Linked DNA regions of Homo sapiens: region 1 is reported to be linked to region 2. The links are microRNA targets in miRTarBase. Many come from high-throughput screens and were not tested one by one. Region 2 holds a microRNA gene; the other region holds the end of a gene's coding sequence. Distances are from middle to middle.
What was found. The annotated mature microRNA hsa-miR-6797-5p reads AGGAGGGAAGGGGCUGAGAACAGGA and lies in region 2 at 1,820-1,844, opposite strand. An mRNA with a match to its seed (bases 2 to 7 or 8) in the 3' UTR can be bound and repressed. Matches are read on the target gene's strand: a 7mer-m8 pairs with bases 2 to 8, a 7mer-A1 pairs with bases 2 to 7 and ends in A, and an 8mer does both.

Region 1: miRTarBase lists GET3 as a target of hsa-miR-6797-5p. Seed matches in the 3' UTR shown: 7mer-A1 at 580-586.

Annotation. Positions count from the first base shown.
Region 1 is chr19:12,747,564-12,751,563 of GRCh38, forward strand. It overlaps GET3 (guided entry of tail-anchored proteins factor 3, ATPase), which reads left to right. Exons shown (of 7, transcript NM_004317.4): 6 at 1-29; 7 at 410-760. The coding sequence ends at 541. Among named protein-coding and RNA genes, the nearest start is that of BEST2, 2.2 kb to the right of the region's middle.
Region 2 is chr19:41,867,325-41,871,475 of GRCh38, reverse strand. It overlaps MIR6797 (microRNA 6797), which reads right to left and starts at 1,849; the gene lies at 1,778-1,849. It overlaps RPS19 (ribosomal protein S19), which reads right to left. Exons shown (of 6, transcript NM_001022.4): 4 at 2,262-2,445; 5 at 1,723-1,777; 6 at 1-125. The coding sequence ends at 99. RefSeq lists an enhancer at 1,443-2,001.

The sequences.
Region 1 (4,000 bases), 29 Mb from region 2:
ACAAGATCCAGGCCAAGTATCTGGACCAGGTGTGCCCACCCACCCAGCACTGGCTCAGCAGAGGCACCTCTGCCCCTTTATTCTCTGATCTTTTGCTCCACCATCTGGCCCTCTGCCCTCTAGCCTCCTGCCCTTTGCCCCCACATTTCAGATCCTTCACCCTTATTCCGGCCATAGAGGACTGTGGCTGGCCTGGCCTAGGTCCCTGTGACCCTGGAGAGCAGGGGGTCTAGCCCAGTGATCTCTGACCATAGTGATGCAGCTCCCACTTATGACACCTTAAGCTCCTGCCCTATATTCTCTCCCTGACTCTGGAAGCTTTCTAGCTTTACCGCTTCTATTGATCCACACTCTGTCTCTGCCTTCCTGCCCCCTGACCACTGCCTTCTACCCTCTGCCCTGGCTGCAGATGGAGGACCTGTATGAAGACTTCCACATCGTGAAGCTGCCGCTGTTACCCCATGAGGTGCGGGGGGCAGACAAGGTCAACACCTTCTCGGCCCTCCTCCTGGAGCCCTACAAGCCCCCCAGTGCCCAGTAGCACAGCTGCCAGCCCCAACCGCTGCCATTTCACACTCACCCTCCACCCTCCCCACCCCCTCGGGGCAGAGTTTGCACAAAGTCCCCCCCATAATACAGGGGGAGCCACTTGGGCAGGAGGCAGGGAGGGGTCCATTCCCCCTGGTGGGGCTGGTGGGGAGCTGTAGTTGCCCCCTACCTCTCCCACCTCTTGCTCTTCAATAAAATGATCTTAAACTGCTGTATTGTTGACATTGGGAGGTGAGGGTAAGCACCTTTATGTACAGTTGCACAGGTTGTGCACTGGACAGAAGTGTCACATCTAGAGGGGCCCATTCACAACAGAGACCTAATAGAGATGCATGTTTATTGTGGCAACTTTGGAAGGAGGGTGTCTTGGGTGAGAGATACCTTTGTCTCATTCTGTGTGGGTTAAGGTGTCCCTGTTGGGCCTGTGAAGCCTGGAATGGAAGACAGAGGCATTTTCCCACTTCCTTGGAGGCTCAGAGCGTGGGAACTGGGAGGCCCCTTGGCCAGCCCCAGGCTGGTGGGGAGCAGAGCAGATTAGGCCGGCAGTGGGCCCGGCACTGCCTGCTGTTTGGTTTGGGAATTAGTGGGCGCCCTGGGGAGAGGCCAGGCCTGCCAGACTGGGGATTAACAGTCTCCACCCCCCAATTCCTGCCCCCATGGGATGGCATCAGCCCCTCCCAGCAAAGGGCTGCAGCAAGGGGGCTGGTTAGTGGGCAGGGTGACAGAGGACTCCGGCTGGAGGGGCTCCTGAAGTCTCATCCTGACTCCAGAGCGGTCTCAGGCTGTGGGCACACAGGCCTGGAAGGCACCTAGTGGACCCCCTTATCCCCTGCCCTTCGCTCCTCCCTCTGCCACTGCCTGGGCTGCTATTGTTGTCCCCACTTGGGAGACTCAGGATGGGGTATGACCTTGAGAGTTTACAAGTTCCAAGCCAGAGCTGGCTAGGGGGGACAGAAAGGGGGTTCCTGAGGACACACGTGAGTCGGTGTTCAGGCCGGGCGCGGTGGCTCACACCTGTAATCCCAGCACTTTGGGAGGCCGAGGTGGGTGGATCACTTGAGGCCAGGAGTTCAAGACCAGCCTGGCCAACATGGCGAAACCTCGTCTCTACTTAAAATACAAAAATTAGTCGGGCATGGTGTTGGGGTGCTTGTAGTCCCAGCTGCTCCAGAGGCTTAGGTGGGAGAATCGCTTGAACCCCGGAGGCAGAGGTTGCAGTGAGCCAAGACAGGGTAAGACCCTGTCTCAAAAAACAAAAGTGGTGTTCAGGTCCAGTCATGGTGGCTCACGCGTGTAATCCCAGCACTTTGGGAGGCCGAGGCAGGTGGATCACGAGGTCAGGAGTTGGAGGCCAGCCTCCAACTACTCTCTACTAAAAAGACAAAAATTAGTCAGGCGTGGTGGTGCCCACCTATAATCCCAGCTACTTGCGAGGCTGAGGCAGGAGAATCACTTGAACCTGGGAGGCAGAGGTTGCACTGAGCCGAGATTGCGCCATTGCACTCCAGCCTGGGCAATAAAGTGAGACTCCGTCTCAAAAAAAAAGTGTTCAGACCCAGAGTCTGGGTGTGCCAGGGTGTGTGTGTAAGGGGAACCCCACCAGGAGCCTAGACTTGTCACTCCAACTCCCTGGGGTGTGCACAAGCAGGTGTGGGCCTGTTGGGGTGGCATGTGTAAACAAACACGATGGTACAGCCGGCTCCGCGCCAAACTGCCAGGATCCAAATCCCAGCTGTGCTACGAACAAGATGAGATGTGACATCGGAGCCTCAGTTTCCCTACTTAGATAGTAAGATGACCAACTTAGCATGCCCGTAAGGATTCCATGAGATGAAACACGCAAGGCGTTTATACCAGCACCAGACAGGAAACCGCAAGAAATGTTTGTTATTTTTCGTTGTCACAATTAGTAAGCATATCAAATAGCCCAGGAAGCCTGCCCCCAGCCCCTGCGGGAATTCAGCAGTCGGAAGTGTGTGGGGATGCGGGTGAGCTGGGGTAGGGAGGATGAAAAGGAGGAGCGGGCTTCAGTGAATGCAAGGACACTTCCTAGGGAGTGAGGGCTGCTGATCGAGAACTGAGCTCATCAGCACCGAGCCTGCCACCGCCTTGCCAGGTTCCGCAGCTGACGGCACCGCCCCAGCTGCCCCCTCGCCCCCATTTATGGGCTGTCCGGCAGCTGGACAGCGAAGGCATGGGTCACAGGGTGACCAGCCCAGGCGGGTTCCTAATTACTCCGGGCAGGGTGAACATCTGCCAGTCTGGGAACACGGCGTCCCAGCCTGCTGGGCTTGGAACCTCGGGCGGGGCTATGTAGAATGCACGAGGGGCTCCTGAGCACTCTAGGATGCCCATCCCAGGGTTTGACCCCTGAACTTCTGCCCCTCCCACACCAATCTGTGTGTTAATGTTCTTCAGGCTGGGCAATGGAGGGGGAGTGGGTACTGTTTGTACCAGGCTGGGAGTGTCCCCTTTAGAGGTGTGTCTGTGAAGAATGAACATCTGCCCAGAATCCATGCCAAATGCAGGACAAGGTTTTGTGTCCCCAAGCTTGTGTGTTCATGGCAATGCTGAGAGTATCTGAGACCTGTGGGTGTGGGTGTGGGCCTGCCGCCGGGAGGGAGCGTTGGAAAGGGGGTTGCCTTCACATATTGGTGTACAAATGCTGGTGAATTTCACCAGCGGTGATAGCTAGGGGACCCTTGAGGGAGGGGTGGCTGTTGTGTGTGTCTTTGCAAGATTGGTGAACCTCAGGCCCCGCTCTGAGCCTGGGATTGTGTGCCACCGCACTGAGGAAAGGGTTTTTGCATTTGGTGTGTGATCATGGCTGCATCTTTGCACAGGGAAGATCGGGAGTAAAACCTCCTTGCAGTGGAGTATGACTGTGTGTGTGAAGGCATTCTGAGGTCTGGGTGGGGTCTGGCACTTGGCTGGTTGTGTGGGTGTCTTTGTTACATGGCGTGATCATGACGGAATTCAGACCGTTGGGAGAGCCGTGTGTATGAAAGAGGAGAGCCTAGTATGTCAGGGTCCACCTGCCTTATATATGCGTGATGGAGGCAGGAGGGGTCGAGGTAGGTGTGTCTTGTGTGACCCTGGAAGGTTCTGTGACAGTGTGTACTGCTCCTCTGGGTAACCATAGTTATGTGAGGCTGTCTTTTTGTTTTTTCAATAGAGATGGGGATCTCCCTATGTTGCCCAGGCTGGTCTCGAACTCCTGGCTCAAGTGATCCTCCCACCTAAGCCTCCCAAAGTGCTAAAATTACAAGTGTGAGCCATCGTGCCTGGCTGAGGCTGTCTTAAGAGCAGCTAGATTTGCTTCTGGGACTATGATGTGTGTTTCTGCGTGCATCTCTGTGACACTGTGTGATTACAGGTGACTGTGAAGTGACCCAGCCTCACTGAGCAGTGTGTGTGTTTCTGGGACTGGGAAAAAGACCATCCCTGCCTC
Region 2 (4,151 bases):
CACTGCACTCCAGCCTGGGCGACAGAGCAAGAGACTCAAAAAAGAGACCCAGACCAGGATTACGAATGAGGCAATTTATTAACCCAGCATGGTTTGTTCTAATGCTTCTTGTTGGCAGCTGCCACCTGTGGGAAAAGATGGAAGAATAAAAGTTAGTCAAGGGGGTCTCTGCTGGGGCACTTTGTAACAGCTACCTAACTACCCACCACAGGTGGGCACCCCGATTTGTGGTTTCAAATGCATCTATCTCATCTAATTCTCACTGTGGGTATTCCCCCATTTCACAGACGTGGAAACTGAGTCTCAAGGGAGTGGCCAGGCACAGTGGCTCACACCTTTAATCCCAGCACTCTGGAAGGCCGAGGCAGGTGGATCACCTGAGGTCAAGAGTTCGAGACCAGCCTGACCAATATGGTGAAACCCTGTCTCTACTAAAAATATAAAAACTAGCCAGGTGTGGTGGTGTGTGCCTGTAGTCCCAGCTACTCGGGAAGCTGAGATAGGAGAATTGCTTGAACCCAGGTGGCAGAGGTTGCAGTGAGCTGACATTGCACCACTGCACTCCAGCCTGGGCGACAGAGCAAGACTCTGTCTCAAAAAAAAAAAAAAAAAAAAAAAAAAAAAAAGGAAGGGAGTGGCGGAGTGGAGTCCAAATTCCGCCCACTGCCATGTGAGAAGGCCAACATCCAACCACCAGCAATGATGTGTGCGCCAAGCCCCACTCTGCCTGGAAGAGCTTTCTCCTTCCAGACCACCCCCAACTCCTAGAGGGCTGACACTTTCCATTCTTTTGTGACACTTGACTGACTAAATGCTCCAAGGCTCCTAGGAGGCCTGAGTCAGTGATACAGAATTGAGCTCATGCCAGGCCCTGGGTGCTCCTGCTGTACTATAGCTCACTGACTCCTCACTACCATGCTTGAGGTGGCCAAGGGTAGATTTTGGCCACAGGGAGGCCAAGACAGGAGACTGTGGCACCAGGGGTGTGGCCACTCTGCCCCAGGGTGTTGGCCAGCCAGGATCTGAATGGAGACCTGGGTTCTGAACCAGCCCCCCTCCCTTATCTCCACCTCTCCCAAGCAGCCCATGTGATGCTCAGTACGCATGAGGACTAAGGGGAAACATCGCAGGCTGACCTGGGGAGGGGGAGTCATCTACGGGTACAGCTATGTGCTCTGTGGATAGATGCCCAGTGGCACCTGGGCTGGAGTTCCCTCCAATTTTTTTTTTTTTGAGATGGAGTTTCACTCTTGTTGCCCAGGCTGGGGTGCAATGGCATGATCTTGGCTCACCGCAGCCTCCACCTCCCGGGTTCAAGTGATTTTTGTGCCTCAGCCTCCCCAGTAGCTGAGATTACAGGAATGTGCCACCACACCCGGCTAATTTTGTATTTTTAGTAGAGACAGGGTTTCTCCATGTTGGTCAGAATGGTCTTGAACTCCTGACCTCAGATAATTCGCCTGCCTCGGCATCCCAAAGTGCTGGGATTACAGGGGTGAGACACCACAGCCAGCCTGCCTCCAAATTTCTAAGCAGCACCAACAGGAAAAGTCAGACAGGACTGTCCTTTCTCCTGTCTCTGGGCAGCCCTCCTCTGACCCCACCAGCACCCTGGGCTGTGCCCTCCAGAGAAGGAAATAAGTCTACCTGACAAAGTATGGGCTTTGGAAATGCTTGGGCAGCGACTAAGGGACCCAGCCCCACCCCAAACGCAGGCCTTACCTGTCCGGCGATTCTGTCCAGATCTCTTTGTCCCTGAGGTGTCAGTTTGCGGCCGCTGTGGGGAGGGAAGGGTCATGCAGGCCCCAGTGAGCACAGGTCCTGTTCTCAGCCCCTTCCCTCCTGGCTGTGAGCCAGGCTTCTCAAAAAGCCACCTGCCGCCAGCCAAGTCCCACTGAGGGCCCTAGTCAGGTGCATTCTAACGAGCTGGGGGCAGTAGTGGGAGCCCCCCTGGGAGCTGACGGGGTGTTGTTTGTGCAAGCATTTAGATCAAAAGCCCCGAAAAATCAATTGGGAAAAGTTAACGAGCAGGCTAATGAAAGCAGATAGTCGCTAAATTACCCTCCTGGAGCCTGGGCTAGTCAGCCAGAGAGGTCGGGGTGAGGCCCCGTGCTGTTTGCTTTTCTGCAGAATCCCCTCCTGCCTGCCTCTGATAGGAGGGGCCTGAGGGGCTGGGCAGACTATGCAGGACCATTCGTTGGGGAATTGATGACCGGGCCTCAAGGCTACTCCATCAATGCAGCCCCCTCTACCCTGCTTACCCATCTTGGTCCTTTTCCACCATTTTCAGCCCCTCCAGGGCTTGGAGGACCCGGCGGGCCACACTCTTGGAGCCTCGGCTGAAGTGGCTGGGCATGACGCCGTTTCTCTGACGTCCCCCATAGATCTTGGTCATGGAGCCAACCCCAGCGCCACCCCGGAGGTACAGGTGCCGCGCTGTGGAAGCTGGGGGTAGTGTGAGAGGGAGATTTAAGGGTCTTGATCAAGGTCTCAGGTAAACAATTCCTTGTGTGTAAACAGCTAATTCTCACTGTTTTATAAGAAGGGAAACTGAAAACACACACTAACACCCAGAAACTGACAGCCCCCTCTCCTCACCCACCCCCCCGGCTAGCTCTTCCTTGACAAACAGCCCTGCACCCTGGGTGGGCACTCCCACCATCTCCAGGGCCAACTTCTTTAGTGGTTACTATCCCAGCAGCACTGCTGTTGAATTGAACCTGAGGTTATGTAGGGGTGGAGCCTAGCTGTGACCATCTCCATGGGCCCCAGAGAAGCAGGAGTGAAGGGACCTATTGCCACTCTCCGGGCCACCTCAGTCTGGAGAGCTCAGGATAACAAGGGCAGGGCAGACACTCTGTGCAGTGGGTGCCCCCTGCTTGGAATGTGTACCAGCCCCTCTGCAGACACAGGGAAGGCTGGCTTGGGCAAGTCCCTGGTCCACCCCAGCCAGCCTCCTTGCCTGCAAAAAAAGCTCCGTAAAATCCAGTCGACACACCAGCCTCCCCAGAAACGCTTGCACGCTTCTATTAACTGGAGCACACATCTGCCAGGCCCTGTGCCAAATGCTTTTCGATCTCTCCACCCTTCTTCACCTGAGGGCCGGGTTACTCTGAGGACTCAACAGGTGTGTCAAGTGCTACTCTCCTTTAAAGAGTGAAACTGAGGTGCCAGAGGGTACTCACTGGCTCCGTGTCACACAGCTCTGGAGGAACTGCCCTGTCCTGCCACTGTGATGGCACCGGGGCCCACATGCAGGAAGCACCCAGATTTCAGCCATCACATGGTCCTGCCTAGCTCTGGAGCTCAGAGCAGAGTCTGGTTTGTTCCTGGGACCCAGAGATCAGCAAGTTGGTCTGAGTCTGCTCTAGTGATTTCTTTCCTCTAGTTCTAAAGATCAAGTGGGGGAATTGGGGGTTCTTCCATAACTGCCAAGTGCCAGGCAGTAGTCTGTGTGGGGTGGGCTGCTTCTGCCCAGAAACAGTTCTTACACACCGCTTGTTCCCAGCCCACTCCTGCCCTGAGATCAGGTCCAGATACAGCCAGCCCTTCATATCCACAGACTCAACCAAGGGTGGATCAAAAATATTTAGGGGAAAAAAACTACAATTCAAAACAGTGTAACAATTATTTACACCGTATTAGTGCTTTTTCTTTTTTCTTAAAACACAAAAAAAGGGCCTCATTCTGTCACCCAGGCTGGGGTGCTGTGGTGTGATCATAGCTCACTGCAGCCTCGAACTCCTGGGCTTAAGCAATCCTCTTGCCTCAGCCTCCTAAGTAGCTGGGACTATAAGTATGTGCCATGTCTGGCCTGTATTAATCTATAAGTAATCTACAGATGATTTAAAATATATGGGATCAGGCCGGGCGCAGTGGCTCACGCCTGTAATCCCACCACTTTGGGAGGCTGAGGCGGGAGAATCACCTGAGGTCAGGAGTTTGAGACCAGCCTGGCCAACATGGTGAAACCCCATCTCTACTGAAATTACAAGAAAATTAGCCAGGTGTGGTGGCACACCCGCTGTAACCCCAGCTACCTGGGAGGCTGAGGCAGGGCAGGAGAATCACTTGAACCTGGGAGGCAGAGGTTGCAGTTAGCCAAGATCATGCCACTGCACTCCAGACTGGGTGACAGAGTGAGACTCTGT